Regions from separate parts of the Homo sapiens genome. Here regions 1, 2, 3, 4 and 6 are each linked to region 5. Evidence: fine-mapped expression QTL. A gene starts in region 5. Each other region holds a variant in brackets. All regions are shown on one strand. Distances are from middle to middle.

Region 1 (5,087 bases), 59 kb before region 5:
CTTGACTCCCAGCACAATGCTCTTTCTTCTATATAGACCTATTCTGAGGACTACTTGTCGACCATGACACCACTCACAACCACCATCACCCTCCCCCAAACTCACCCACACTGTAGGCTAAGCCTACACCATAGAAAACAAACCCACAAACACCCCCCCCTCATACAGATGGTCTCCACGTACCCCCTCTTGGGACTCGGACACACTCACGTTTCCGAGCCTGTGCCTCAAACTGTGACAGGTTCTGCCGGGTGGCCGGCCTCACGTCCACTTTTTCTCCATTAAGAACTTTCCCTGGTAGGAGTTCCAACAATTTGTGGACAGAGTTTTCAGAGGCTACCACCACCTCAGCATACCTTAGGAAAGAAAAATTAAAAATGAATGAAATCTGTAGACAGCCAAGAGAAGAAAAAAGAAATTCTCTTCCACTTTTAGTAAAAATTGATAAAGCAAAGGACATCTTGCTAAACTAAACACACATACAGCACTAACAACAAAGAGACAGCCTAAATCTTTATTTTTTTGGAATTAAAAATCAGTATTCTTCGCCCCTTAACAGATGGATATTCTACTACACTGCAGCTAGGTCCCTTTCTAAGGCAGTTTGCCAAAACCAAGGCAGTAAGCTGGGCCAGGGGTGGGAGTGATTAAAATCCAGGGCCAAAATATAGTACAGATCTTTTATCCCAATGGTTACAAATTAAAAGGGGCTTCTCAAATCCAGACCTCACCCTTTGGACTGGCCATTTGCTCGATTCTCTGCAAATTTCAACTCCACCACATCATAGACTCCTATAGAGCGAATAACCTGGATCAGCTGCTGGTCTGTGGTCCACTGGGGCCGGCAAGATGGAAAAGGAAGAGATGTCAAGAGCTACACCCCCGCCCGCCAATGTCCCAAACCCAGGATTCTAGTCACAACTAAGTCCCCCCAGAGGAAACTCAAAAGCCTGGCAATATTTCAATTAGTGCAGACTTTTCTTATTGTCCTCACCCATACAGAATTCCAAACCCACTCACCCCCAATCTCCATCTTTAGAGATTACGAAGATTAAAACTTATTGTAACTTTGACTGCCGTTTGGGCTGGCTGGTCATCAGTTCAAACATTGACAGCTAGCAATTTTTTAATTATAGATCTGTCAGGCTAGAGTTGACCATTGCCAGAACTTCCCCCACAGTAAATATACTTCCTAATTTGGAAAAACCACCCCCACCACCAGCCCCAAAACATCACAAAATAACTTGCAGAACAACAGTCACCACCTACCCCAAGTATACTAGAGTTATCAAGGTCTTTAATCCCCATCACCCACCATTATCACAGGACCATCTAATGACCACCAAGAGTTCAAGGTGTTCACTCTGAAATCTCGTCCCTCAGATGACCCTGCTAGACATAAAGCCCCAGGGTCAGGGGCAGTAACAAGATGGCAGAAAAAGCAACTACCCACTTAATCATTGCTTTCTTCGGCACCAGTACGTCCTCAGGATAGTTCTCTTTCAGAGATCAATCCAACCTGATCCCAGGAAAAAGAAATCCAACCCCATCAGAGCACAAAACAGTGCAACAGTAGTTTCTGAAAATGCCATCACCTCCCAGTGCTCTCCCTCCAGCCCACCCCTAAGCATTTTTGGTTACCCACACTCACCCAGGAGAAGCTGCCCACATAAACGGCAGCTCGTCTATTACGCAGGCCACTGTAGGTATACAGAATTGCAGGGGTCTTGTTGTTGGGCTTGGGAGATGGCTCCTGGCGAACAGGAGGAGGTGGTTCAGTGCTGCTGCTTCTGTCATCTGAGGGCTGTGAGGTGGCTGTCAGCACATCATCATACAGGTCAATCTGATCTGTATTGTTGAACTCTGGGTCCTAAGAGATGAGGGGTTGGCAAAGGTAGGTCTGCAAACTTCATTTTGTTCATTCTATTTCACTCTAGTTTATTAGAATCCAGTTAAATACTTGGTAAAACATGTACAAAACTTCCTTGTCCTACCCCAGGAAACAAAGTAAGAAAAACCTCCTTTTGAAACTGTATCACTTAATTATGCTTATGTACATTTTTTTCCCCTCAAGATTCTGTTAATAGTCTGTAAAGTTTCTGGCTTTAGCCAACGGCAAGAATCAAAAAGCACTGGGTGATTAAGCAAGCAAAGAAAGAATGCATAATGAGATGCATGGGCTGCTGTTATCAATAAGGTCAGCTTCTAAAGACCACATCTAAGATAAGCTAATGAAAACTTATTTTCAGTATCTTATGCTATTTCCAAAATCAAGTGTTACATAAAATTCACTTGTCTATTTAATAATAAATTTATTTAGAAACAGAATGCAGAGGAAAAGCATGAAAGTGGGTACAAAAATGCAGAAAAGATTGGGAGTTACTGATTTAAATCCCTTGATTGGTATAAATGATTTAGGAAAGCTCTAAACTCATTGTACACAATCCCATCTTTCCATCGGAGAAAATAAAAAATAAATAAAAGGGAAGGGAATAACAACAGGGGTTTTCCCCTACTAAGTTCTATTTCTTAAATGACATACAGGCCCAATGCATTACCATGACATGTATCTAGGAGACTTTTTTTTTTTTTTGAGACAGGGTCTCACTTTGTCACCCAGGCTGGAGGGCAGTGGTGCAATTACAACTCACTGCAGCTTCAACCTCCTGGGCTCATGTGATCCTCCCACTTCAGTCTCCCAAGTAACTGGGGACTACAGACATGCGCAACCATGCCCAGCTAATTTTCAAATTTTTTTTGTAGAGACA[G/A]GGTTTCACCATGTTGCCCAGGCTAGTCTGGAACTCCTGGACTCAAGTGATCCACTGGCCTCGGCCTCCCAAAGTGCCGGGATTACAGGGGTGACTACCATGCCCAGCCAATATTCAATGATATACAAAAAACAGTTAAAGTTCTCTAAAATATAAGGGCCAGAAAACAGGACAAGAACATAAACTGTATCACACAGTAAGCATTTACAATATGAATATGTATTATGGAAAATGTGCAAAATACATATTCTGCCTATGTGATATCTTACTTACTATATACCAAAACCCCTAAAACTACAACTACTACTACTACGATACAGGACCTTAATGTTTAGGATTTTACAGGCTGGGTGCAGTGGCTCACGCCTTGTATCCCAGCACTTTAGGACGCAGAGATAGGCAAACTGCTTGAGCCCAAGAGTTTCAGACCAGCCTGGGCAACATGGTGAAACCCTATCTCTACAATAAATACAAAAATTAGTTGGGCATGGTGGCACACATCTATAGTCCCAGCTACTCGAGAGGCAGAAGGATCACTCGAGCCCGGGAGGTTGAGGTTGCAGTGAGCCAGCCTGGGCAACAGAGTGAGACCCCATATCAAAAAAAAAAAAAAAAAAAAAAAAAGGGTTCAGGATTCTACAATGTAATTACCTCAGAGAAATCTTTTTTTTTTTTTTTTTTTTTGAGACACAGTCTTGCTCCATTGCCCAGGCTGGAGTGCAGTGGCGCCATCTCAGCTCACTGCAACCTCTGCCTCTTGGGTTCAAGTGATTCTCCTGCCTCAGCCTCCTGAGTAGCTGGGATTACAGGCACACACCACCATGCCCAGCTAATTTTTGTATTTTTAGTAGAGATGGGGTTTCACCATGTTGGTCAGGCTGGTCTCAAACCCTTCATCTCGTGATCTGCCCACCTCGGCCTCCCAAAGTGCTAGGATTACAGGCGTGAGCCACCGTGCCTAGCCTCAGAGAAATCTTTTTAAGGATTAGACAAGCATTTTATTTTTATTACAAGAATTAGACAAAACATTCAAACAATGCTAAAGATAATGCTGCCAAAATGACAGAGACAGCAAGTAGTTCAGTGTTTTAAGGATGCTACGGCAGTTTCATATTGCTATTCTTTTAAAAAGGGAATAAAGGAGGCACCTAAGTTGGGAAACTTGTCTAGTACCCTGAAGAAACAGTTTCTCCAAGGCAACTAAAGACAGGCGGCTCCCTTAACTTTCTCCCTCCAATATCACGGCAATAACTGCTAATTCTGAAGTGATCTGAAGACGACTCACTAAAAAATTTACTCTTAGACCAGTCCTTGTATTATAAGAACCTTTGGAAACAATCTTTCAGTTTTTCAGTTTATCTGAAGTACAGTGGAAGAAAATGCACACTAAGAGAATAATCTTGGGTTGTTCTGATAGAGAAGGGGGAAGGATTCTACTTCCTAAAGCATATAAATAATTTCAAATATTAAAACACTCTAAGAAACCCACCAGGAGGGCTTAACCCTTGTAAAAACGTTAGAAAAAGAATATCAAGAGACAGTAAACTTTTAGGGGGCAACTTAACAACAAGAAATTAGTGAGGCAAATAAGCACAGGAAGCTTGTTCCATGTAGTCAAATCCATCAAAAAGGATTGTGCATAAAAAGGGTCAGCATGTAAAGAATGAGGAGAGAAGCTAACACTGGAGAGGACAGGGTGGATAATAAAGTAAGGTGAGGTCAGCTAGGGCTAATGAGTGGGAAAACATTTTGTGTGTAAGTAATCACTATAAAATATTTCATAGCTGTTACGTCTCAAACTATCCCAACTCTATAGACAAATCACTCTTCTATTCATGTACCAGGTATGGTGAGTTGCTCCTGTGGTTCAAGGTAGAGAAAGGATTTATATACATCACTTGATCCCATCCAATGCTCAAATCCTTAGAAAGCACTACTTCACACCAAGATTCTTCTTTTTTTCTGAGATAGAGTCTCACTTTGTCACCCAGGTTGAAGTGCAGTGGCGCAATCTTGGCTCACTGCAACCTCCGCCTCCTGGGTTCAAGTGATTCTCCTGCCTCAGCCTCCCGAGCAGCTGGAATTACAGGTGTGCACCACCACACCCAGCTAATTTTTGTATTTTTAGTAGAGATGGGGTTTCACCATGTTGGCCAGGCTGGTCTCTAACTCCGGACCTCAGGTGATCCTCCCACCTCAGCCTCTCAAAGTGCTGGGATTACAGGCGTAAGCCACTGCACCCAGCCTTCTTTTTTTTTAAATCAAGGATTTTCAAATGACACGTAAACAGAATAAGGAAACACATCATCTTGGATAATC
Region 2 (5,087 bases), 36 kb before region 5:
AGTCCCTTAAAGTGTTGGGATTACAGGCGTGAGCCACTGTGCTCAGTCTGTCCAACAGCTTTTGGGTTCTCTGTTTTGTGTTTTTTATTCTTTTTTCTCTTTGTGCATCAGTTTGGGTTATTTGTATTAGATAATATCTATTGACCTGTCTTCCACTAATTCTTTCCTTGATGATGTCAAATCTCATGATGGGCCTGTTGAAACCATTCTGCATATCTGCTACTGTATTTGTTTTTAGCATTTCCATTTGACTTTTGGAGTTTCCAACTCTGCTAGAATTTCTCATCTGTTCATACATTTTGTCTGCTTTTTCCACTGGCGCCTTTAATATTAGTCATAGTCATTTTAAATTCCCTGTCTGATAGTTCTAACATCTGGGTCATCCCTCAGTCTGCTTCTGTTGATTTCTTTGTCCCTTGACAGTGTGTTGTTTTTTTCTTCTTTTGTGTATATGTCTCGTAATTTTCTCATAATTGTATTTATGCTTACAATTGGGGATGCTTCTTCTACTTTACTGTTAGTGTGGGGATCAAGTCAGTGAGTTGGGAGGTAAGCTCAGCTTGGGTTGTTTTTGCTTTGGTTACCTTCATTGCATTACTAGTGTCTAGCGTTAACGTGTGCTTAGAGTGGAAGCTGGCTCTGTCGCCCAGGCTGGAGTGCAGTGGCACCCTCTCGGCTCACTGCAACCTCCACCTCCCAGGTTCAAGCGATTCTCCTGCCTCAGCCTCCTGAGTAGCTGAGACTACAATCACGTGCCACCACACCTGGCTAATTTTTTTTTTTTTTGAGACGGAGTCTCACTCTGTCACCCAGACTGGAGGCAGTGGCGCGATATCGGCTCACTGCAAGCTCTGCCTCTTGGGTTCATGCCATTCTGCTGCCTCAGCATCCCGAGTAGCTGGGACTACAGGCGCCCGCCACCACGCCCGGCTAATTTTTTGTATTTTCAGTAGAGACGGGGTTTCACCGTTTTAGCCAGGATGGTCTTGATCTCCTGACCTCGTGATCCACCCGCCTCGGCCTCCCAAAGTGCTGGGATTACAGGCGTGAGCCACTGTGCCCAGCCTGTGTCTGTGGTTTTATACACTCATGCTAGCCCACACTTGGCTTTTAACAATTCATTGCAAATTTTAGTGGCACAGGCCTGCAGTCCCAGCTGCCCTGGAGGCTGAGGCAGCAGGATCGCTGGAGCCCAGGAATTCTTGGCTGCAGTGCTCTATACCAATCAGGTGTCTGCTGTAAAGTTGGCAACAGTATGTTGACCTCTCAGAAGCAGGGGACCACCCGATTCCCTAAGGAGGGGTGAACCAGCCCACGCTGGAAATGGGACAGGTCGAAATTCCTGTGCTGATCAGTGGTGGAATTGCACCTCTGACTAGCCACTGCAGTCTCCCCTGGGCAACATAAGGCTGGCCCTGTCTGTATTAATTTAAAACAAATTTTTTTGGCTGGGCGTGGTGGCTCACGCCTGTGATCCCAGCACTTTGGGAGGCAGAGGTGGGCGGATCACAAGGTCAGGAGACCAAGACCAGCCTGACTAACACAGTGAAACCCCATCTCTACTAAAAAAAAAAAAATTACAAAAAATCAGCCGAGCGTGGTGGCGGGCGCCTGTGGTGCCAGCTACTCGGGAGGCTGAGGCGGGAGAATGGCGTGAGCCCAGGAGGTGGAGCTTGCAGTGAGTCCAGATCGCACCACTGCACTCCAGCCTGGGCGACAGAGTGAGACTCGTCTCAAACAAAAAAAAAAATTTTTTTAGCTGAATTCCTTTTACCCATTTGTATGATGTCCAGTGTCTCTTCTTCCTGTGCCTGCCACAGGTGAGCAAGTGCATGGCTCTCGTTTCTCCTTTGAAGGGCCTCTTTTTCCTTAGGTTTCGTCTGTTGGGTTGCCTCGTGACCTCAGTTCTCTGATATCTTTGAGAAAAGTCATAATATTTGTAATTTATCTGGCTTTTTCTTGTTGTTACAGTGAGTGCAATATTCTTTCCAACTTTCTACTTTCTTGGGGGAAGCCAAAACCTCTTTGATCTTATGTTGATTGTCACATGAAAACAGAGCCCTCACTAGATGCCAGGCCCTGTGCTGAGTAAGGGAGAATCTGACTTGGTTTTGAGGAATTCTCTCTCCTGGCGTCGTACCTAGTGTTGGTGGAAGGGTAATTCTGGAGCACATTGCCTCGGCTTTGGCAGTGGGAGGCTTTGCTTGTAATTGGCATCTTAAATAAGTGTCCCAAGGGTGTAGAGAAAGGTCAGGGGGAGCAGCACACTGCCAGACCCACTGCCGTAGACTGAGGCTGGCCTTCTCATTCTTCTGACTCAGTGCCTATGTTGCCCGTTCACTGAAATCTGGTTCTTTAGGCTCATGACAGTTCTGTGTGCCTCCAATATCCTTCCAATAAATTCCTTTTTGCTTAAGTTTACTAGAGTTATTAGTTTCTGTCTCTTAAAACTGAGGACCTCTAACTGATAGACAAAGGAGAGAGCTTTTGTTTCAAGAGATATATACATTGCAAGGGAAAACACAATGTCTGGGGAACAATGGAATTGCCAAATGCAAAGCAAAATAGTACAGCCAAGATTGTGCGGGCCAGGGGTCAGCAAACTTGTTCATAAAGGACCAGATAGTAAGTATTTTACTTGTAGTCATATGGTCTCTGTTGCAAGTACCCAATTCTGCTGTCATAACACAAAAGGAGCATGGGTAATATGTAAACCATTGGGAGCAGCTGTTCCAATAAAACGACTTGCAAATATAGGCTCACACAGTTTGCCACCCCCTGGTATAGGCTAACATCGTGTATATTTAGAAGAAGGATGGAGACAGTCTATATATCCATCTGTGGTTCTTGGCCAGTGTTTCGAGTTTTAAGATTCTCATACCTGAGCATTGACTGACTATGGCATAATTTTTTCTGCCCACTCTTCTCTTGCAGAAGCTAAACCAGCCCCAGAAATATTTGAAAATGAAGTCATGGCCCTGCTGAGAGACTTTGCTAAAAACAAAAACAAAGAGCAGAGACTGCGTGCCCCAGATCTTGAGTACCTCTTTGAAAAGCCACGTTGAGCTGTGCTCCA[C/T]GGCCTGGCATGGGGGTTCAGTCTGTGGATGGTAACTACTTATGATGGACGTTAGCCTTGCTTCCGGCTTCTTAGATGCCCAGCTGCCCTACCCCAGACCACTGGTCCTGCCTCAAGTGATGGACATAACCCTCTCCTAGGACATACATGTAAATGCACAATGTGACTCATTCTCATACTTTTTTGTTCAGCTCTGAGCCTCAAAAGTGATTTGTCAGCAGCGCTGGCATGCAGGCTTTGCCTGGCTGCTATCTCTAGAGGCAAGTCTGCCACGAGAGGGCACTGCAGGCGAAGCAGTTGTGCTTGCTCATTGCCTCAGCCCAAGTGTACTCAAAGAAAAGAGGCAGCCAGCTGTGCGTGCTGTATGGAAAGCCTCCCGCCCTCCCTGCAGCTCCCCGCCCTCAGTGGCCCAGGGCTTTGTTGAAGTGGAACTCCCCACTTCCAACCTGGTATGGCTCCTTCTGCGAAGGGAAGCTGATCCCAGCCTCCTGAGCTGAATCCTTCAAAGGCACAGCAGGCAGAATGAGGGCCACAGGCAGGAGTGGTGTGGGCACACTGCTTAGGAGTCAACATCTTCATCATTGGGCTTTCTTTAAAACGTGCACTTTGTAATTTGAAAGAGAATTATTAAAGCATACTGAAAAAAGGAAATTTACAATTTCCCAGCCCTCACAATTAATTTTAATTTTGTCTATTTTCATATAACCCATAGTCATGTTTATAGAGTTTTACAAGTTCACAATTACAGGTTTTATTTTCATGTAGCACTATAGAAAACTTTCCCCCTCATTCCTACAGTCTTCACAATTAGTTGACTAAATAATAATACATAAGAAATAATATATTAGAATGAATTAGTTAGAAGTGTTTTTAAAAGCTCTAGGGCTGTGTGACTTCTGTGTTGCTAGTGGTGCCCTCCCTGGAGGGGTTTTGCCCTCAGAGCTGTAATCTAGGCAGTAGAATCAGTCACCCAGACTGGACCAGGTGCATCTAAAGGTGTTGACTAGAAGAAGGTCGGCCAGATTTGATGAGCAGGTGGTTGGTGATTATAGGAGCCGCACACAGGGACTACACACGCACATGTTTCCAGCATTGTTGAGCTCCAGGGTTCCTACAGAGCCACCTCATGGTTCCTGCCTGCTCTTCAGTATCCCTGGTGGCTCAGGAGGGAAGGGAAGAGATCTAGCCTTTACGTAATCACAGTTAAGCCTCACAGCACTCTAGACTAGTGGTGTTACCTGTATTTTATACATAAGAAAGTGGGCTCAGAGAGAGGAAGTAATTTGTCCAAGGTCAGGTAGCTATTGAGTCGAAAAAGCAGAATTTAGTATAGCTCAGTCTGCCTCCAAAGCTCTTGAACTTTCTACTAGAACACACTGCCTTACTGCTGGAAATTTAATAGAAGTCTCTGTTTGGGAAAGCTGTGGCAAATAGATGTGACAGTTCTGAGACATGACCTCTGTGTTACATGGTGGGTAGGAATCTGCCAGGTGCTTCGCCAAGTGAGTAGATCTGAACTTGATCACCCAGTGAAGCTTCTGTGAGGAAGCAGCGCAGTGCACTGGTTACACATTTAAATCCTGGCTCTGCTGCTTACCTGCTGGATACATGAATTGACCTGAGCCTCAGTTGCCTCATCTATAAAATGGGGATGACAATGCTTCCTGTCTCAGCTAGTTGATGAGATGAAACACACAAAGCTCTTACATGGTAACTTGCACAGTATGTACTCTAGATATGAATGTCAGCATTTAGTCATAGCCTCAGTCTGAGACTTAAAACCTGTCCCTAACACAAATTGCCTGGCATATCAATGAGGTCACCATAGCTACATCCAGGGTTTCTCATCTGCAGGTCAGAAAGCTGAGCCTATTAATAGAACCACAGAATGTCTTACCTCCCAGTGAAGACGAGAGAGAAAACAGACCCTGGTGACAAGACCTTTGATGGAAAAATCTAGCACTCTCCCCTAAGCAAGGAATGGAAGTGAGACTCGCAGAAGCAGGGCAGG
Region 3 (5,087 bases), 220 kb before region 5:
CCATCAATAGTACTTCATTGTGTGCATATACCACATTTCTTTATCCAGAATGGAATACTATTTAGCCTTTTAAAAGAAGGAAATTACAGGCTCACGCCTGTAATCCCAGTGCCTTGGGAGGCCGAGGTGGGTGGATCACTTGAGGTCAGAAGTTCGAGAACAGCCTGACGAACATGGCGAAACCTTGTCTCTACTAAAAATACAAAAATTAGCCGGGCATGGTGGTGTGCGCCTATAATCCCAGCTACTCAGGAGGCTGAGGCAAGAGAACCACTTGAACCTGGGAGGCAAAGGTTGCAGTGAGCTGAGATCGCGCCACTGCACTCCAGCCTGGGTGACAGAGTGAGAATCCTCAAAAAAAAAAAAAAAAGGAAATTCTGTCATTTGCAACAACATGGATGAAACTGGAGGACATTATGCTAAGCGAAATAAGCCAGACACACAAAGACAACTATTGCAAAATCTCAGTTTTATGTGGAATCTAAAAAGGTTGAAGCCAAAGAAGCAGAGAATAGAATCGTGGTTACGAAGGCTGGCAGGGGCGAGGGGAATGGGGAGATGATTGTCAAAGGGTACACAATCTCAGCTAGACAGGAGAAATATGTGTTGTGTTGTGTTTTGTGTTGTTTAGAGACAGTGTCTCTCTGTGGCCCAGGCTGGAGTTCAGTGGCGTCAGTTCTTGGGAATCAATCCACTGTCCTATCTAAAAGCATCGACTCCAGTCTGAAACCCTGGCTCTACTACCAATCAGCTATGTGATCTTGAGCACAGCACTTCACCTGCCTGGGCCTGTTTTCTCACCTGGCACAGGAGGATGACAAGAGTATTGCAGGGGTGTAGACACATGAGGTGTCCCGGCACACCGTGGGTGCTCAACACATATTAGAGATTACTCTTCTGCAAAACGGACTCAGTTCCCATGTTGTAATTTAAAATAAAGAAGAAAGCATAGGAAGAGGTTAAGAAAGGGGATAAAGAAGAAAAAGGGAGTGCAGGCCGGGCGCAGTGGCTCACGCCTGTAATCCCAGCACTTTGGGAGGCTGAGGCGGGCGGATCACGAGGTGAGGAGATCGAGACCATCCTGGCTAACACGGTGAAACCCCATCTCTACTAAAAATACAAAAAAATTAGCCAGGCGTAGTGGCAGGCACCTGTAGTCCCAGCTACTCCGGAGGCTGAGGCAGGAGAATGGCGTGAACCCGGGAGGCGGAGCTTGCAGTGAGGTGAGATAGCGCCATTGCACTCCAGCCTGGGTGACAGAGGGAGACTCAGTCTCAAAAAAAAAAAAAAAAAAAAAAAAAAGCAGAAGAAGAAGAAAAAGGGAGTGCAAATAAACAGACATCATGGTGTGTGGCATCATGAGCACGGGATGAGGGTCAGCAGGCCACAGCACAGCTGTACAACCTTGCGCGAGCCGTGTTCCCTCTCTGAACATGGCTTTCTCTTATCCAGCCCTTTACAAGTTCTATGTACCGGGGAAGAAAAGTAAAATGGAAGAAGATGGCGGAGAAACTCCAGGACCCAGAGACCCACTTACCTGGACAGGAAGAGCAGCAGTCCCCAGGAAGCAGGGCAGGGTCGGCACAGGCCCGCTGGCAGGGAACCTTCTCACAGCTCACCTCTCCCAGCTGGGGAAGCAGAAGGAACCCCATGAGGAAGCCCAGAGCATCTTGCCTGCCCTGGGCAGTGCCCTCAAGGGCCTCTTGCACCAGCAGCAGGACCCACGGAAAGATCCCAGGACAGAGGCTGCAGTGCCTGAGCCCTCGCCTGGAGAACAGGTAAAGCCAGCTATGGCAGGACCCCCTTTGGGAAACCACTTCTCCCTCTGGACTTCCACAGAGGGAGGAGATGGTCAAAACCAAAGATATTCTGGCAGTTAATTAAAGGCGGAGGATGGCAGGAGGATGGATTTATGCTGGCTAAAGGGCTCCATGTTTTGCAAAGGGACAAAAGGCAAGAAGCTGCCCTCTGGCGGGGCCGCTCCTGGGTTCCCAGGCCCAGCTCACCTGGCACGTGCACCGGGTGCAGGGTTCATCATCCAAGGTGAACACCTGGCCATTCGCCACCTTCCTTCCCTCGTAGTTGCAGTCTGTGGAGGAAGGGGAGACAGGAGCCCATGAGAGCCGAGGCCTGGCCGGGAACCTGGCACGTGGGGCAGCTGGTCCCACTCACCTCGGCACACGGGGCAGCACTCCCCGTCAGGGTGGAAAGGGTAGGTACAGGTGATGGGGCAGTCCACGGGGGAACAGGCCACTGAGCCCAGCTGCAGGACACAGAAAACACACAAGGCCCTCGGTTCAGGGCAGCTGACAAGACACTCAGGAAGATGCCGCTCCTATAGCCACTGAGTGTCCATCAGAACAATCAACATTGTGGGAGGAGTCCATGGTGGGGCAGTGGGGCAGGGGGCGCATTTTCTCTGTTGGGGTCCAACTTCCCACTAGAATTCAAGCCCCTCGAAGGTAAGAACATGGACTTGTCCACGGAGGGCATCTGTTAACGGGTGCCTGTTGCATAAACTGCCCAGAAAAGATAAGCACCAAAACCCGATAGAGAAAGATCCAGGGGCCAAAGTTCCCCAAAGCCCGAGGCTGAGAACAACTAGGGCCTACGTGCAGTGGGTCACTCAGGGTAAGTAGCTCAGGGCTGTTTACCGTGAGTTTCTCAATCTTTCTGCAGACCGTGTCCCTTGTCACGCATGTACTCTGCTGAGGCTCACTGATCACCAAAGAAATACCGCATCTGCACCCACACCAGCAAAGCAGCGTCATCCCGCATTCAGGGCGTCAGCATGCTAAGCATGAAGAATTTTTTTACCCGGAGTGGTGGCTCACACCTGTAATCCCAACATTTTGGGAGGCTGAGGCAGGAGGATCATTTGAGGTCAGGAGTTCGAGACCAGCCTGGCCAACATGGCAAAACTCCGACTCTACTAAAAGCACAAAAATTAGCTGGGCGTGGTGGTGCGCACCTGTAATCCCAGCTACTCAGGAGGCTGAGACGGGA[G/A]AATCGTTTGAACCTGGGAGGCGGAGGTTGCAGTGAGCCAAGATTGTGCCACTGCACTCCAGCCTGGCGACAGAGTGAGACTCTGTCTCAAAAAAAAAAAAATAAAATAAAATAATTATTTTTTTCATCCAGGCATAGTGGCTCACACCTATAATCCAGCACTTTGGGAAGCTGAGGTAGGAGGATCACTTGAGGCCAGGAATTCAAGACCAGCCTAGGCAACAGAGCAAGATCCTGTCTCAGTATTTTTTTATGTAAAATTTTTTAGCTACATTTTTAAAAAAGCTAAAAACAAAATTTTTGGCTGGGTGCAGTGGCTCATGCCTGTAATCCCCAAACCTTGGGAGGCCAAGGTGCGAGGATTGCCTGAGCCCAGAAGTTCCATACCAGCCTGAGCAATACAACACGACCCCATCTCTATGAAAAGAATTTTTTAATTAGCCAGGTGTGGTGGTAATCCCAGCTGGGTGTGATCCCACCTACTTGGGAGGCTGACATAGGAGGATCGCTTGAGCCCAGGAGGTCAAGGTTGCAGTGAGCCAAGATCACGCTACTGCACTTCAACCTGGGTGACAGAGCAACACCCTGTCTCAAAAAAAAAACAATTTTTTTTTCATTTTCCAAAAACTAAATGATACTATGGGACATGCTTTTTCAGACTGAGAGGCAGTATGACCCAGGAGAAGAAATATGCATCTCAGAATCACAATACTAGGGTTCCATTCTCAGTACTTTGATTAACTAGTTACGGGATCTGAGCAAAGACTCTCTCTGTGCCTTGGTTTTCTCATCCAGAAGAATGAGATGATAAACTCTTGAATGGATTAGCTGAGTGCATGCCTATGAAGGGCGTGGCACACTGCAAGAGCTTGACCACATGGGTCTACTGAAAAGGTTCCAGTACTGGATTCTGGGTTTGTGCGTTTCACCTCCACCCTCATCAAGAATCCCTAAGACTCTCTCTAGGGGGTAACCCGGAAGCAGAGGACTTTGCCAGCCAGGTTTAAAAATATTTCTCTGGGCTGGGCATAGTGGCTCATGCCTGTAATCCCAACACTTTGGGAGGCTGAGGTGGGCAGATCACCTGAGGTCAGGAGTTCAGGAACGGCCTGGCCAACATGGCGAAATCCCGTCTCTACCAAAAATACAAAAATTAGCCAGGCGTGGTGGTGCATGCCTGTGGTCCCAGCTACTTGGGAGGCTGACACAGGAGAATCGCTTGAACTCGGGAAGCGGAGGTTGCAGTGAGCCAAGATCACACCACTGCACTCCAACCTGGGAGCCTGGGTGACAGAACAAGGCTCCATCTCAAAAACAAACAAAAAAAATTTCTCTGGCCCTGTCTAAAGGGTCACCCTGGGCAGGACTGGAGGGAGCTGACTTCCACCATGAACCAGAAGCATCCCTTGTCTTGGAGGTCTCTGGATTTTGCCTCTGGGATTCAGGAGCCGATGTCAGTTGTGGGGGAGTTTCCAGGGGCGGGAGTCAGATCTGGGTGGTCCATACCAGGCAGATGCAGCTCAGACATGGGTCCAGCACAGACGGGAAGGTCTCGTTGTTATAGAAGATTCTGCCTGTGTAGGTGCAGCCTGCCAGAGAGAGCATGCGCTGAGCACCAGCTGGGAGTGGCCAGGCACCAGGCTTCCCGCCAGGGCCAAGGTCACAGGCTTATCTGGATGGCAAAGGGGAGGCCATGTGCCTCCCCAGGCAGTCACCCTGGGAGTTAGGGAAGGGACAAAACGCCTGTTTGGATTGTCTGAATCGGGTATTGACTTTTTTCCCACTGGATTCAGCAAAAGGATCAAGTGTCTTGGCCTCAGTGTCCTCACCCTGAAGAGTGGGGAGATTCATCCTCTACCTCCTCACCAGGGGGGATCAGGTGGAAGAACTGGGAAATACGAGGTGTGTGTGAGGCCCCACAGCATCTTCCCAACCTCCTCTCTGCCCTCCAAACTCACTCAAACCACCAACCCCGCCTGTCCAGAACATTCCCCAACACTACTCCCCTCTCTGATTCCTGACAGCCCCAGAAGCCTGATGTGAGTGATGCCACCTTGGATGATACTATCATATACTGCTAA
Region 4 (5,087 bases), 370 kb before region 5:
TCTGTGCGTGTGAGTCTGTGTGTGAGTCTGTGTTCATGTGTGTGAGAACTGTGTATGGGGGAATGTGTGAGTCTGTGTGTGAGTCTGTGTGTGAGTCTCTGGGCATGTGTGTGAGTACTGTGTGGGGGGAATGTGTGAGTCTGTGTGTGAGTCTGTGTGTGAGTCTGTGTGTGGGAGTCTGTGCGCATGTGTGTGAGAACTGTGTGTGTGTGCTTTCATGAGCACAATGCGGCCTCCAAAGGCAGGATTATCTCCCCAACACATGTGACAATGGCACCTGTGCACACATGTTCACATGGTTCTTCTCACATGTAACAACAACAGGTACAAAATGCCTTCTGTCCCAAAGTAAGAGGCCTGAGACAGACCTCTGGCTGGCTTCAGGGACCCTGCTAAGGAGGGACCAGGCCCTTAAACCCCCCACCTGCTCCTCACCTCTGGCCTCAGACTTCATTGAGATAGGGCGGCTCCCAGCTGAGTATGGGAACCCGTGTCCTGCTCTAGGGCCCTCCCAACTGAATCCCATCATGGGTGAGGCTCCTGATGGCACCAGGCAAGTCCCCTGGCCCAACACAGGCCACAGTCAGGAAGACTTGGAGGTAGCCCCTTCACCCCAGTATGGGGACCTCCTTGAACCCCAGGAATACTCAGTTCCCAGTGTCTGAGTGAGCCGGTGGGTACCAAGCATTCCCTTTGTTCAGTGGGTAACGGTTTACAAAGCACTTTTAAAGCCATTTTCTGCTGCAAGCTTCACAACAGCCAATGAAGTAGGTGGGCCCATTGGCCCCATTTTACAGTGGGGAAAAGCGAGGCCCAGGAAGGCCGAGTGCAAACCCAGGGTGCAGCAGCTGGTGCACAGCCGAGCTGACCCCAGCCCAGCATTCCTGCCTTCACAGAGGCCCCTCCCTTAGCTAAAAGGGAAGGCCACCAAAGGCACTTCCGTGTGCAGGAAAATGGCCCTGGGACACAACCTCCACCAGCAGAGATACAGCCACCAGAGCTGGGGACACCAAGGGCCAGGGTTGCTGGAGTCAAACAGTGCAGGCACCCTTTGAGCCATTCCAAGGAGAGAGGCAGCAATGCCAGAGCCCTGGGGACACCACAGCCTCCTGGCTGGCATCGGGGCTTGGGGACCTTTGGATCCTGAGGCATGAAGATGCCCCCAGCAGGCCTGGGTGCTAGTGACAGGCCAGGGCTTCCCACAGTTGCTCCCCTCTCAGCCCCAGCCTGCCTGGACAGCTGCTGGCAGTGAGGCGGGGAAGCGGCTCTAACACAAACTGCACGTCCCTGACTGGCCTAGCCGATGCGACTCTGAAAGCCAGCACTGGGACGTGGGAAAGTCATGGACTCTGCAGTTTGAATTCCAGTCTGCCACTTACCAACTGGGCGACCTTGGACTAGTTCTGTAAGCCTCAGTTTTCTCATCCGTAAACTGGGTGCAACAGTACCTCATAGAGGCTTATAAGGATTCAATGAATCAATGCACACAGAGCTTAAGTACAATCCTGGCATATAGTATAGTAAGTACTCAATAAACAATAATAACAGCAACAACTATGATTATTATTATTACCAGGGTCAGCAAGAAACAATGCGAGGTAGGAGCCAATGGGGAGGAGGGTCTTGCCAGAGGCCTGCACAGCCGTCAATCTCTCTACCCCTCAATCCTCTTGCACAGGCTATTTATTCACTAATTCATTCATTTTTCATCTACAAATATTATTGAGCATCTCCTGTGCATCCAGCTCTGTGCAAAACACTGGGGATACAGGGACCAAGGCAGGAGTCCCTGCCCTCAAGGATTTGATCAGCTAACAGGAGAGCTGTTAGAGAACACAAGTAAACAAGCACCAAAGACCGGGCATGGTGGCTCATGCCTGTAATCCCAGCACTTCGGGAGGCCAAGACGGGTGGATCACCTGAGGTCAGAAGTTCAAGACCAGCCTGGCCAACATGGTGAAACCTCATCTCTACTAAAAATACAAAAATTAGCCGGGAGTGGTGGCACGCACCTGTAATGCCAGCTACTCAGGAGGCTGAGGCAGGAGAACCGCTTGAACCTGGGAGGCGGAGGTTGCGGTGAGCCGAGATCGCGCCATTGCACTCCAGCCTGGGCAACAGAGCAAGACTCCATCTCAAAAAAAAAAAAAAAAAAAAGGCACCCGAAATATTTACACATTTTGAAATACTGAGTGCAATGAGGAGAACAGCAAGTTCCTCAGGCACAATACAGTCTGCACTAGGATAGGAGGACATCCCTTTGGCTGGGCAGGCAGGGAGGGCCTCTCTAAGGAGGCGAGGTCTCATCTGAGAATCCGAGACCTGAATGAGGGACGGAGCCAGCCAGGCAGAGAAAAAAGGGAAGAGGGTCCCAGGCAGAGCGGATGGCAGGGCAAAGGCAAGGGGGAAGGACAGGCCTGAGAGGGTGGGGCTCCTACTGGGAGCAGGGCAGCAGGCCCACTGTCCCAGGCTGGGCGAGGCCCTGGTTGGATCATCCTCCTCGAAGACCCAGAGCTCCCCACCTCCAGCAGGGAATGAAGGGACCTGGGGGCCCAGGAAGGGACCTGGCCTTCCTGGGTCACTCTGTCACCATCAGTTCAGAGGGGTTTTCCCTGCAGTGACCAGGCGGCGAATTCAGCTCAACCTGACAAAATTGATTGAACATCTATTCTGTGTGTGTGTGTGAAATTGAACATCTACTGTGTGTGTGTGTGTCCATGTGCTGTGTTTGCGTATGAACACATATGTGCACAGCCCTGTGGAGGGGAGCTTTGGAGCAATGCAGACCTAGTTTGATTTCTGCTTGGCCACCCACAAGTGAACATCTCTCAGGGTCTCATCTATAAAAATAGGGGTTCCTTGCTGTGTCCACCTCAAAAGATCACTGCAATAATTACATCGGGTTTATTCAGAGACTAGGTATGGATTGAACACCTACTATGTGCCAGATGCTGTTCTAAGTGCTGAGGACACAGCAGTGAACAAAAC[G/T]GTGGAAAATCCCTGCCCTGGTGGATCTGGCATAATAGTCAGGGTGTGATGGGGAGACAAACAAGACACAAGCTAAGCTAGTGATTATGCGAATACTAGACGGTCATGAGAGGTGTGGAGACAGACAGATAGAGGAGGGCTGGGACCGGAAGCCTTGGTGGGGTGTGAGGTACCTGGGGAGGATTCAGCGGCTCTCATGAGAAGATGATATTTGAGTCAATATTTGAAAGAAGGGAGTGAGCCCACCGTGTGGGACCTGAGGAGAAGCGTTGCAGGCAGAGGGGCCTCCAGCTGCAGGTCAGTGGGGGATCGATGAGGCAGCCACGAGGGCCACGGATGCCCCCGTGAGGACTTGGGCTTTTTCTCCCATGCACTGGACAGCCACACAGGAGCAGAGAGGTGAGCATAACTCTCACCTCTCCAGGTCCTCAAGTGCATCTTGAACCCCAGGCCAGATGCATTTGGAACTCCAGAAGCTTTCAGATTGTAGAAGGAAATACTGTGTACATACTGTGTGCTCTTAACACACGCAGTGAGGCCTGGGGCAGCACCCTGCGTTCAACACATTCCCATTTCTGCAGTGAAACATGAATTTGCACACTTAGAGGGATGTAAAGACAGCAAACACCCTCCCACCAAATGCATTAGAACAAGACTTTTAGATTCTGGATTTTGAATTGCAGATAAGAGACTGTGGGCCTGGATCACTTCTTCTATAGCTACCACTATCACCGTGACCAGCATCATCATCACCATCATGTACCTTTCAAGGCCTGACTTTCATGGTGTCCAGAGGGACCCTAATACTCCTCTCCGGGGGACAGATACGGTAGGAATAGCGTAGGAAATGGGTGGTGGCAGTCTGCAGAGACGACAAGGGTCCCATGCACTGCCACAGATTCCCACAGAGACATCTGGAATGAACCCCTCCCTCCTTCTGGCCCCAGTTTCCCCCATCTGTACTCCAGAGCAAGCAGGCTCTGGGGCCTCCCTGGGGTAGACTCCCACAGGCCCTGTCAGGTGATGGAGACAGGGTTTCTCTCCTGACTCTACCACCAGCTAGCTGTGTGACCTTGGGCAAGTCACTCAGCCTCTCTGAACCTCGGTTTCCTGATCTGAAAATGGAGGTGAGCATGGTCCCTTCTTCACAGGGCTGTGGGTAGAAAGAACAAGTCTAGTGCATGAGAGAGCTTTGGGGTAGGTAAAGCTCTAAACAAAACCAAAGCCTTGTCTCTGTGACAGCAGAGACACCGTATATGGTGCGAAACTCATGCAACAGCAGACTACTAGTGGGAGAGAGAAATAACAATTCAAACAGCAAAGGTCATTCTGCCCACGACCCACTGTCCGCTCACTGGGACAGGCCCTGGGTGAGCCAGATTAGAGACCTGAATCTGCTGTTCCTTCCTGCGGGCTCCATTCCCAGGCCTCTCCTGGTGTAAGCCCAGTGTGACTCTATATGTGTTTTGCACATAAAAGCCGCCTAATCATAAACCAATCATTTCATCTGTGCTCAACCCAAGAAAGGGAATTTTGGTCCTTTACGACCTTCGTTTCCCTAAAGCCCTGATACAGCTCCAACTCTACAGATGACTGTCGTTTCAGAAAAGAGGGGCTTCTGACCTTTCAAGTCAGCCAACATATAGGATTCGAGGAAGGAAAATCCAGAATCCTACCCAAAACACAGGCAGATCTATTGTATTTCATGGACATCGATGGCTGTAGCTATGGGGAGGTCTGTGGACTGTTAGAAGGAATCACTGTTTACGGGAAAAAGGGAACACCTGACTTGCAAACTACACTAAATCAGTCATAGGTGTTTTATCTGTGGAACAAAGTGGTGATAGCACCCCGTCTTCTGAGGCTCTAGAAAGAAATGGGGTCTTCTGTGAAAAATCCTTGTCCTGGGGTCTGCACAGGGTAAGGATGCTGTCATTTTATTATCATCGGTCATTATCACAGGCCTGTGAATCCGGGTGCCTGCCAAACCCTAAGCAGGCCACACCCTTGCCTCCATTTCCCAGGGTGCAGGGGCGGCAGGACCTAGGAGTGAGCCAGAGGCAGGGGCCAGGAGTGCAGGTTACAAAGCCAGCCGCCCT
Region 5 (5,087 bases):
TTCGTGTGTGGAACTCCCACGAGCCTCTGTAGTAGAATGGGAGCACTTTGCTGGAGGGCAGGGCTGTGTGCACTCACTCCTGTGTCCTTGTGCCCTGTGATCCCTGAACAGAATCGTTAGTCCGGAGGGTGGGTGCCAAACGTGCTTCAGCTTGCCTTCCCATGGGGGGCTGGGTGAGGACACGAGTGAGCCTCCACCCTGGCAGGCCAGGTCACTACAGGATGAATGCGGCAAGGGCATCTCCTGGGTGAGGAAAGGAGATGCCTCCTTTCCCTTTATTCAGCCTTCATTCATACCTCACTCTCCCCTGAGAGCAGGGGTGCTCTGAAGCCAGCTCTACCGGCTCAGGAGAGCTGAAGGCGAAACTTCCAGGAAATTGGCAAGCTGGTTTTTAACTCTGCCATTGTTAAAAATTAAATTACTGGCCGAGCGCGGTGGCTGACGCCTGTAATCCCAGCACTTTGGGAGGCTGAGGCAGGCAGATCACTTGAGCTCAGGAGGTCGAGACCAACCTGGCCAACATAGTGAAACCCCATCTCTACTAAAAATACAAAAATTAGCTGGGCGTGGTGGCGTGCACCTGTAATCCCAGCTACTCAGGAGGCTGAGGCAGGAGAATTGCTTGAACCAGGAGATGGAGGTTGCAGTGAGCTGAGATCGTGCCACTGCACTCCAGCCTGGGGGACAGAGCAAGACTCCATCTCAAATAAATAAATAAATAAATAAATAAATAAATAAATAAATAAATAACTTAAACCTGCAATTTAATGAATTATATTAAAAACAAAAAAAAATACCTAAAACTCATCACCCCTTAATTATGTGAGTACATTTTTCTATTATTTGTGCTGTCGAGGTTACTTACGCCCATTATGTCTGCATGATGGGACTACTCCCGTACAGTGGTGAGCGACCTTCCCATGTCCCGGTTCAAAGACACTGTAGTGGTGGTTTGAAAGCAGCCCTGATGGGACCACTGACATCACAGAAATTGGCAAATGCTGCAAAGTAGGGCTATCCCACCCCACCCAGAGATCTAACTGTTACAACATTTACAAGCCTGAAAGCCAATTTGAGGCAAAAAGGCTGTCATGGAAGAAGATTCTCACTGTGGAGTTTGCGCACTCAGATTTGAGTCCAGGCTCCGTCTCCACCCACTGTGGGGCCTGGGCTATTTCCCCTTGAGCCTCGCCTTTCCTATCTGCAAAATAAGACTAAAAGTACAGCAGCTTTTGCAAATTGAGCATTTGCCGAGTGTGGTGGCTTGCCCCTGCAATCCCAGCAACTCAGGAGGCTGAGGCAGGAGGATCACTTGAGGCCAGGAGTTCAAGACCAGCCTGAGCAACATAGCAAGACGCTGTCTCTACAACAAATAAATACATAAATAAGCAAGTCAGGCAGGGGGGAGCACACCTGTAGTTCTGGCTACTTGAGAGTCTGAGGCAAGAGGATTGCTTGAACTTAGGAGTTGGAGGCTGGACTGAGCTATGATGGTACCTCTGTACTCCAACCCAGGTGAGAGCATAAGATCCTGTCTCTCTTAAAAAAAAAAAAGAGCATTTACTACCTGTCAGGTGCTGAATCCATGCTCTTGCTAAATCTGCCAGCAGCCCTGTGAGGTGGGTGCAGTCACGTCCCTTGCGAAGATGGGGATTTGGGGGCGTGAAGAGGATAAGTACCTCATCAAAGGTGACAGATCAGATTTGAACCACACTCTTAACTGCTGCGGTTTATTGGCCCTACAATAATAGTGCCCAGTTCACAGGGTGGTTTGGGGGATTACACGACGTAATGTGTGTTAAAGGGCTTAGCACAGATTCAGCTCCAGAGGAACATAGTAAATGTTGATTTACCGAGAGGCAGAAGAGCGGGATCCACATCCACCCACGTTTGAATCTCAACTTGGCTATTTTCTGATTGCGAGATCTCTGGAGTCAAGTCATTTTGCTTATCTAAGCCTCATGTTCCCCCAGTGAAAATGGGGATAATCATAGCTACTGAAGAGCTGCTCAGAGGATGGAGATAGAGGATGTAAAGTATCTGCCGAGAAGTGGGTACTTTATGGGAGTGAGTGTTCGGGATTATCTTTTATTTTATGTCACGCAGACAGCAACTCTTCCCAGCCCTGTGGAGGAGGCCGGAGGTTGGGGCCGGAGCCCTGGAAGCAGGGCCTTGCTCGGGCAGCTTCTGACCCTCCCCTCCTGGCCAGGTCAGCCCCTCAGTGGGCCCTGGCCCTAGAAGGTCTCAGAAGCCTGGGGACGCTGTTGCTAGGCACCAGTTGCTAGGCTACACATTGTTTCTCCTGCTTGGCCTCCTCCAGGAGGGCTGGCTTCTCTGCAGAGCTCTGCTTCCTGCAGCCTCTCCCCGACCTCAGAGCCTCTGCAGAGGAAAGGTGAGGGTGGGGCCGCTGTGGTTGGGCCTCGGGGAGAGTGCAGCCAATTCCCAGGGGAGGCAGGCAAGGCCAGAGGCGGGCAAGGCCATGGAGATGAGGGAGAGAGAGGAGCCGGGGGCTGGGAGTGAGCGCCTCGGCCTGACTTCTTGGGTGGGGGCCAAGAATTCCCCAGGTAGTGGGTTGTCGGCTCATTCATTCCGAGAGGTGGGTATGTAAGGTTCAGGTCAGGGGCCGAGTAGTCAAACACCTAGGTCTGAATCCCAGCACTACCACCTATTATGGAGCAAATCCTTTATCACTTGGAACCTCACTGTCCCAGTGGTAAATGGGGACAGGAAGAGTTAATAAGAAGGTGTGGGAAAGTGAGAGGAGACATGAGGACTCTTGGGATAAGTGTGGATGATCGGTTTCGTCCTTAGTTTAGGGACTTGGGAGCTGGGGCAGAGAGACAGAGGCCTGGGAGAAGGGGCCAGCTGCGTTGTGGGTGGTGGGGGGCAGATCTTCGCCCCTGTGGGCTTCCGAGCCAGGCTTGGGACCCATGAGGCTCCCCGTGCTTCCTTTCTAGGCCCCCTGGGGCCCTGCCCCACAGCATCATGATGGGGAAACTCCCCCTGGGGGTCGTCTCCCCTTATGTGAAGATGAGTTCGGGGGGCTACACGGACCCCCTGAAATTCTACGCCACCAGCTACTGCACCGCCTACGGTGAGGGTGCCTTTGCGCAGGAGCCTCTGCTAGGACATGGGCAGGAAGGGAGGGGCTCTCTCTGAGGGAGGAGCAGACCCTCTGGCTGTCACACTGCAGAGCAACTGCTGAATCCGTTTGTCCCCTGGGCCCTGCCCGGCTGCTCCCTTCTCTGGTTCTGTCCCTGCAATTCTGTCACTGTGATTCTGCCACACTGACCTTGTCCCCAGCCCACCCACTCCATTTCCTGCCATCACAGTCCTGAAAGGGCAGGCTTGCAAAGCTCCTGCCCGTGGCTCTGAGCCCTCCCCTGTCACTGTGACCCCTGTGCCCCTCGGAGGACGCTGGCCCTGCCTGGGAAGCCCTGCCTGTTTTTGACCTTGGGGTCTGTCTCCCCGTTACCCCTCTGGCAGGTCGGGAGGATTTCAAGCCCCGTGTGGGCAGTCACGTAGGCACCGGCTACAAATCAAATTTCCAGCCCGTGGTCTCATGCCAAGCCAGTCTGGAGGCCTTAGACAACCCGGCCAGGGGGTACGGTCTGTATGGCCCCTTCCCAGCCCCTGCCCTGCTCATCAGACCAACTCCAGGTTCCTTGGATGGGGACCCTGAGCTTTGCCTGCCCTAGGCTGGGGGTCCTGGGTGACTCAGGGCACAGCGGACCTCTGAGCCATCTGTGGGAGGGTGCAGGGAGGAGGGAAGCTCCTTAGCAGAGGACAGAGGCAGGCGGCCTGGGGTTCTAGCTCCTCCTCACCCTCAGGGAACAAGCCCAGGACCATTTCCAGTCTGTGGCCAGCCAGAGCTACCGCCCCCTGGAGGTGCCTGACGGCAAGCATCCCCTGCCCTGGAGCATGCGCCAGACCAGCTCAGGCTATGGGCGGGAGAAGCCCAGTGCGGGTCCCCCCACCAAGGAGGTCAGTGCTGGGCCAGGGCCAGGAGAGGGAAGCCTCAGGGTGGGGTGGGGCTAGGGCTGCACTGCCAACAGTTGGTCAAGGTGGAGGTGACAGGGCATGGAGCAGCCACCTTGTAGGGATGGGGTCCACTCATCTTTCTCCCCTTTGTCCTCATCCTTGTCCCCACCATCCCCACCACCTCTATTCCCTGCCCCAGCCCCACCATTACCTCCACCTCCATTTCCATCCCCATCCCTGTCCCCATTCCCATGAGCCTCACACTCCCGTCCACACCTGCAAGCCCCATCACTGTCCCTACTACCACCACTGTCCCCCCACCATGGACATCCTCACCCCATCTTTTTCATTTCTTTTTCTTTTTTTTTTTTTTTTTTTTGAGATGGAGTCTCACTCTGTTGCCCAGGCTGGAGTGCAGTGGCACGATCTCGGCTCACTGCAACCTCCACCTCCTGGGTTCAAGCGATTCTCCTGCCTCAGCCTCCCCAGTAGCTGGGATTACAGGCATGTGCCACCACACCCGGCTAATATTTTGTATTTTTAGTACAGACAGGGTTTCACCGTGTTAGCCAGGATAGTCTCAATCTCCTGACCTCGTGATCTGCCCGCCTCAGCCTCCCAAAGTGCTGGGATTACAGGCGTGAGCCACTGCGCCCAGCCCCATCTTTTTCATTTCTATCCTCATTATTACCACCCTTCTTATCATCAGCACCACCACCAAAATGGACACTCATTCATTCATCCAGCGAGAATGTTCTGAATATCTCCTTCATATTTGAAGATGATAAGAGCGGGTGGAGTGCGGGGTGGGGCGGGGGTTAGGAAATACAACAGGGAGAAGCAGGGAGGAAGAGAAGTGAAGGAGTTGGAGGCCAGGTGCGATGGCTCACACCTGTAATCCCAGCACTTTGGGAAGCTGAAGCAGGCAGATCACTTGAGGTCAGGAGTTTGAGACCAGTCTGGCCAACATGGTGAAACTCCATCTCTACTAAAAATACAAAAACTAGCTGGGCATGGTGGCACGCACCTATAATCCCAGCTACTCAGAAGGCTGAGGCAGGAGAATTGCTTGAACTCGGGAGGCGGAGGTTGCAGTGAGGCTGAGA
Region 6 (5,000 bases), 180 kb before region 5:
GTTGCCCTCAACCAAATCCCTGAAAGGATGTGCTCCTGTGTTGTGATCTAAATTCACATTTGGCCTGCTACACCGAGAGGGCCAGAGGCGGACACATTTCAGGAATATAAATGTACATTTCCAAGATGGACCAGCGGAAGCTAGGTGATAAGTACTTTGGGAGTCAATATACTGTTCTATTGTGTATGTTTGAAATTTTCCACATGAAAAAGTCAAAAACAAAACAAAACAAAAAACCTGTTCTGTACAGGAACCTAATCAAGACATGTAGTAGCTTCCGGGTAATGTGACTCCGTGTGCCACATATGCCGGGATGTGCTTCCCAGCAAGGGGATGGCTCTGGGAAGGATATAAGGAGTGCTCGATCTTCCCCACACTTTTGATGACTTTATTGAGTCGATTCTGCATGTCCAGCAGGAGGTTGTACCAGCTCTCTGACAGTGAGGTCACCAGCCCTGAAGAAGTGAAGGAGGCAGTGAGCTGCAGAGAGCTCAACCCCACAGCATGTATCCTCTACGTAAAGGGCAGCCCAGGTGAGCAGCTCAGGGAGGGCTAATGTGCTGCAGCCTCCTCTAGTAAACACCTAGGTCTTGTACAGTTGCTCTCCCCAGTCCCTCAGAATGCTGGTATCAGGAAGGAGGCCTGTGTGGGGGTGTGCCCCACAGGGGTGACCTTACCTATCATGCCGTTGACCGTGCCGAAGAGCACCGAGCCTTGTGTGGGGGTGGAAGTCTCACCCAGATTCTGCATTACCAGAGAGCCGTGGCAAAAGACATTGACAAACTCGCCCAGGTGGAAAAGACCAACCTCCTGGAGGTGCTGCCGCTCCTCGTCAGTGGTGGCAGCGCTGAAAGGCGGTAAGAAAGTCACTTTCTGAACCTCCTGTTTCCACCACAGGCCCTGAGACAGGACCACGTGCAGTGGTCACGGTGCTCAATTTCCCTGGGGAGCTGACATACTCCACAGTAGGGGAGCCAGTCTAAAGAGGTGGATTTCTGTCACCTTTTATTCTCTGACGAGGAAAGTTCTATCTCTGTAAACAGGAGCACCTGAACCTGACACAGAACCCAATGCTTGCATCCACCAGAGACCAAGGAACTCCCAGCCCTCCCCACCACTCCCAGAGCTGGCCACTACTCACCTATCCTTTTGACACACAAACAAGTTAAAGGCATTTTCAGCCCCCAGAAAATTGTCATCATCCAAGATTTCCACAGCACTCATCCAGTTGGGATTAAAGTCTCGAGCAATCTTAAAACAGACAAGGTGAAAGAAGAAAGCATAATCAGCAGTTTGCACGGAATCCAGTTCTGGGACTTGTGTTTCCTTTATTCAGGAGCAAGGCCCCACCCTGCAGAAGATATAGCATGGTGTTCAACAAGTGTCACCCTAGAGGGATTCTCCCCGACCTCTCTGCCAACGCAGCCCATTTGGTTGCCAACTGCCCAGAGATGGAGCCTAGTCAGAGTTTGAGTTGGGAGTCTCTAAAAATACTTAATCAGGGCCGGGCACAGTGGCTCACGCCTGTAATCCCAGCACTTTGGGAGGCCGTGGCGGGCCGATTATGAGGTCAGGAGATCGAGACCATCCTGGCTAACAAGGTGAAACCCCGTCTCTACTAAAAATACCAAAAATTAGCCAGGCGTGTTGGCAGGTGCCTGTAGTCCCAGCTACTCGTAGTCCCAGTTACTTGGGAGACTGAGGCAGGAGAATGGCGTGAACCTGGGAGGCAGAGCTTGCAGTAAGCCGAGATCGCACCACCGCACTTCAGCCTGGACAGAGCCAGACTGCGTCTCAAAAAAAAAAAAAAAAAAAAAAAACTTAATCAATGTAGAATGTCTGCTCCGGGGAAAACATTTCTGCCCCTAATACTGGGCTGGCTTATCCTTCCCCACCAGAGACACTTGCAGGGGCGGTGGCTCAAGCAAGAAGTCTGCTCGCATCCCCCCACCAGCATCACCTCTTCAAAGTTTCCTTCCATGGGCTTGTAGGCAAGCAGCAGCACTGAGCGCATAAGGTCGCCCACCAGGATGAAGTCGCCCTTGGTCTTCAGGTAGAGGGCCATGATGTTGTTGTAGTGGTTGCACTCAGTGCGCAGCTCCTTCTCTGTTGTCCACTCATAGAGCCGCACCTGGGAAGGGCATTGTCTCTCTCAGCCAAAGGGGCCAGAGCTCTCTCAGAATGACTCCCCCCAACTCTTC[G/A]ACCCTTCATCTGCAGCACTACTTCTCAAAGTGCAATGCGGGACAGGAAACGGTTTTATGAGGCACTGGGGTGAACATTTATTATTTCACTATTACATATTTATGAAATATGAAAACACAATGAACACACCAAACCAGGAATACAAAACTTCCCAAGTTTTCCTTTACATAAAAAAATGAGTCCACGTAAAGGAAACAGTAATGTGGGTAGTCGGGCTTGGTGGCGCACACCTGTAATCCCAGCTACTCAGGAGGTTGTGGCACAAGAATTGCATGAACCCAGGAGACAGAGGTTGCAGTGAGCTGAGCTGAGATCATGCCACTGCATCCCAGCCTAGGCGACACAGCGAGACTCTGTCTCAAAAAAAAGAAAGAAAGAAAGAAAGAAAAGTCCAACAGAAACATTGACAAATAACTAAAGGAACCTGAAGAACTTGATTCTACAGCCACCCTCTACCACCCCGCAAGAGGGAAAAAGAAACTGTGCAGCCGGCCGCAGTGGCTCACGCCTGTAATCCCAGCACTTTGGGAGGCCGAGACGGGCAGATCATGAGGTCAGGAGAACGAGACCATCCTGGCTAACACGGTGAAACCCCGTCTCTACTAAAAATACAAAAAAAAAATTAGCCAAGCGTGGTGGCGGGCACCTGTAGTCCCAGCTACTCGGCAGGCTGAGGCAGGAGAATGGTGCGAATCTGGGAGGCGGAGCTTGCAGTGAGCCAAGATGGGGCCACTGCACTCCAGCCTGGGGGACAGAGTGAGACTCCGCCTAAAAAAAAAAAAAAAGGAAAAAAAAAGAAACTGCTTTTTTCTGTCTCCACCACAGTGCTTCTTCAATTACAACCACATCTCCAAAAGAATGAAAATGCTTTATCATCAGTAGACAAATGGAGAGCTACTTGGCACGGCCCAGTGCTAAAGAAGACAGACTCAACCCATCTGAACTGACAAGCCTCCCCTGGCAGATCCTTCAGGATCCAGATAATCCCCATGGCCTCTGCACATCTAGAAACTCCTGGGCAGAACATATTAATCAAACCACAATTTCTCAAGATTTGTCCAAAGAACCCTAGCTACACAGGAATATATTCCAAGAATCATTTGTAATAATTACAATGGTTGGCGGGGCGCAGTGGCTTACGCCTGTAATCCCAGCATTTTGGGAGGCCAAGGCAGGCGGATCACGAGGTCAGGAGATCGAGACCATCCTGGCCAACGTGGTGAAACCCCATCTCTACTAAAAATATAAAAATCAGCTGGGCATTGTGACGTGTGCCTGTAATCCCAGCTACTCGGGAGGCTGAGGCAGGAGAATCTCTTCAACCAGGGAGTCGGAGGTTGCAGTGAGCCAAGACTGCGCCATTGCACTCCAGCGTGGCGACAGAGTGAGACTCCATCTCATAAATAAACACATACATACATACTATGGTTACCACACCTCTATCACAGGGTAAAAGGTACCTCCAGAGTGCCCCGTCTTCAGGTAAGCCCACCTTGCTGGGCCTCCACACCTCCAACAGAAAGAGTGAAGCGGGGGGCCTCAGAGCTCCACATGTTCCTGCCAACACCTGCCACCACTCTCTCTCCACACTCTCAACCTCCCCATCGCCTTGGAGAGAGTCAAGACTAAAGCCAGACACCACCAGAAGGCCAAGACTCCCATTCTCTTCCCAAAAGGCTGTAGACTTCCACTGTCCAATATGGTAGTCACTAGCCACACATGGCTATGAAACACTTGAAATGTGCCTAGTCCATGTTGAGATGTGTTCTGACTATAAAATACACACCAGATTTTGAATTATTAGTATGAAAAACTGTAAAATATCTTAATAAGCATTTTTATACTGATTACATGTGGAAATGCTAATATTTTAGATATTGGGTTAAATAAAATACCTTATTCATTTCACCTGCTTCTTTTTGCATTTGTTAATGTGGCTACTAGAAAATTCAGAATGACATACATCGCTCATATAATATTTCTATTGGCTGGCAACAGAACAGATATGTCCTCACCTGACCTCAAATGCCACCCTCCACCCTCCTGATCCCTGTGCCCACTCACTGCACCCTCTGGAACACAGTCATTAACCATGGACAGCCACTTCTCTGGGCAAACCCTTCACTTCATTCTAACTCATATCCATGGCTCTTTCCTAAGGGCCTTGTGGCCCTCTTAACTTGTCTGTTTTCTCTTCCACTGTCCCTCATAGCACTGGAACAGGAGGTAGCACAGTCTCCCAAGCTCCTCGTCTGCTCTTTCAGACTTGTCACTCCCTCCCCTGAAACACCACAGTTTTAAGGCTCACACCACCAGACCACACAACCACCATCACCCACTAAAGCAGTCACCTGAATCCCCAACCCACCCATCACTCTCTCCCACACAACCTCCTATAAGTCTTGATGACTATAATATTCACAGAGAAGGTCCTTCTAATACCCTCACCTCTTAGCTTTTCTGACCCCTTCTTTCCCACTTACTTTGTCCATTCTTATGACCACCTCTTAAAGCCTGGCATTACAAGTAACTGCACTCTTCCTGAATCTCGTGTCCTCCGCTCTGCCTCTTCTCAGATGCTCATAGTCCACCACCATAATCACATAATAACTGTCTTGCAGATTCCAACGCCCTGACCCCTCTCCCCTTTCTCATGCTCACCTAACAAAACTCGACTTGTATTAAATTTTCATCTTCCACTCCAGGTAAGGAAAACCAACCAACAGGATGACTGTTCTTTTACATTCAAGACGACTAACTGAAAGGGGGTTCCTAAACCTCTCAGAAATAATGCATTT

What was found.
Region 1: its variant is fine-mapped to the expression of SAXO4 in whole blood (TOPMed, PIP above 0.99).
Region 2: its variant is fine-mapped to the expression of SAXO4 in whole blood (INTERVAL, PIP above 0.99).
Region 3: its variant is fine-mapped to the expression of SAXO4 in whole blood (TOPMed, PIP above 0.99).
Region 4: its variant is fine-mapped to the expression of SAXO4 in whole blood (INTERVAL, PIP above 0.99).
Region 6: its variant is fine-mapped to the expression of SAXO4 in whole blood (TOPMed, PIP above 0.99).

The regions. Positions count from the first base shown.
Region 1 is chr11:61,419,739-61,424,825 of GRCh38, forward strand. CPSF7 (cleavage and polyadenylation specific factor 7) reads right to left here. Exons shown (of 10, transcript NM_001142565.3): 3 at 1,652-1,870; 4 at 732-835; 5 at 211-356. Among named protein-coding and RNA genes, the nearest start is that of CPSF7, 7.7 kb to the right of the region's middle. The variant G/A (reference allele first, on the strand shown) is at 2,769.
Region 2 is chr11:61,443,007-61,448,093 of GRCh38, forward strand. It overlaps SDHAF2 (succinate dehydrogenase complex assembly factor 2), which reads left to right. Exons shown (of 4, transcript NM_017841.4): 4 at 2,935-3,727. The coding sequence ends at 3,065. It also overlaps the pseudogene RN7SL23P. Among named protein-coding and RNA genes, the nearest start is that of SDHAF2, 15 kb to the left of the region's middle. RefSeq lists an enhancer at 3,336-4,083. The variant C/T (reference allele first, on the strand shown) is at 3,077.
Region 3 is chr11:61,262,950-61,268,036 of GRCh38, forward strand. It overlaps VWCE (von Willebrand factor C and EGF domains), which reads right to left. Exons shown (of 20, transcript NM_152718.2): 16 at 4,513-4,595; 17 at 2,173-2,263; 18 at 2,007-2,089; 19 at 1,538-1,628. Among named protein-coding and RNA genes, the nearest start is that of PGA5, 24 kb to the left of the region's middle. RefSeq lists an enhancer at 3,367-4,566. The variant G/A (reference allele first, on the strand shown) is at 3,007.
Region 4 is chr11:61,103,988-61,109,074 of GRCh38, forward strand. The region is part of intron 1 of CD5 (CD5 molecule); the gene reads left to right. Among named protein-coding and RNA genes, the nearest start is that of CD5, 4.0 kb to the left of the region's middle. The variant G/T (reference allele first, on the strand shown) is at 2,989.
Region 5 is chr11:61,478,825-61,483,911 of GRCh38, forward strand. SAXO4 (stabilizer of axonemal microtubules 4) reads left to right here and starts at 2,296. Exons shown (of 14, transcript NM_145017.3): 1 at 2,296-2,392; 2 at 2,958-3,094; 3 at 3,487-3,604; 4 at 3,831-3,984. The coding sequence starts at 2,986. RefSeq lists an enhancer at 3,733-4,027.
Region 6 is chr11:61,301,905-61,306,904 of GRCh38, forward strand. It overlaps DDB1 (damage specific DNA binding protein 1), which reads right to left. Exons shown (of 27, transcript NM_001923.5): 22 at 1,961-2,131; 23 at 1,142-1,251; 24 at 678-847; 25 at 353-455. Among named protein-coding and RNA genes, the nearest start is that of VWCE, 9.1 kb to the left of the region's middle. The variant G/A (reference allele first, on the strand shown) is at 2,202.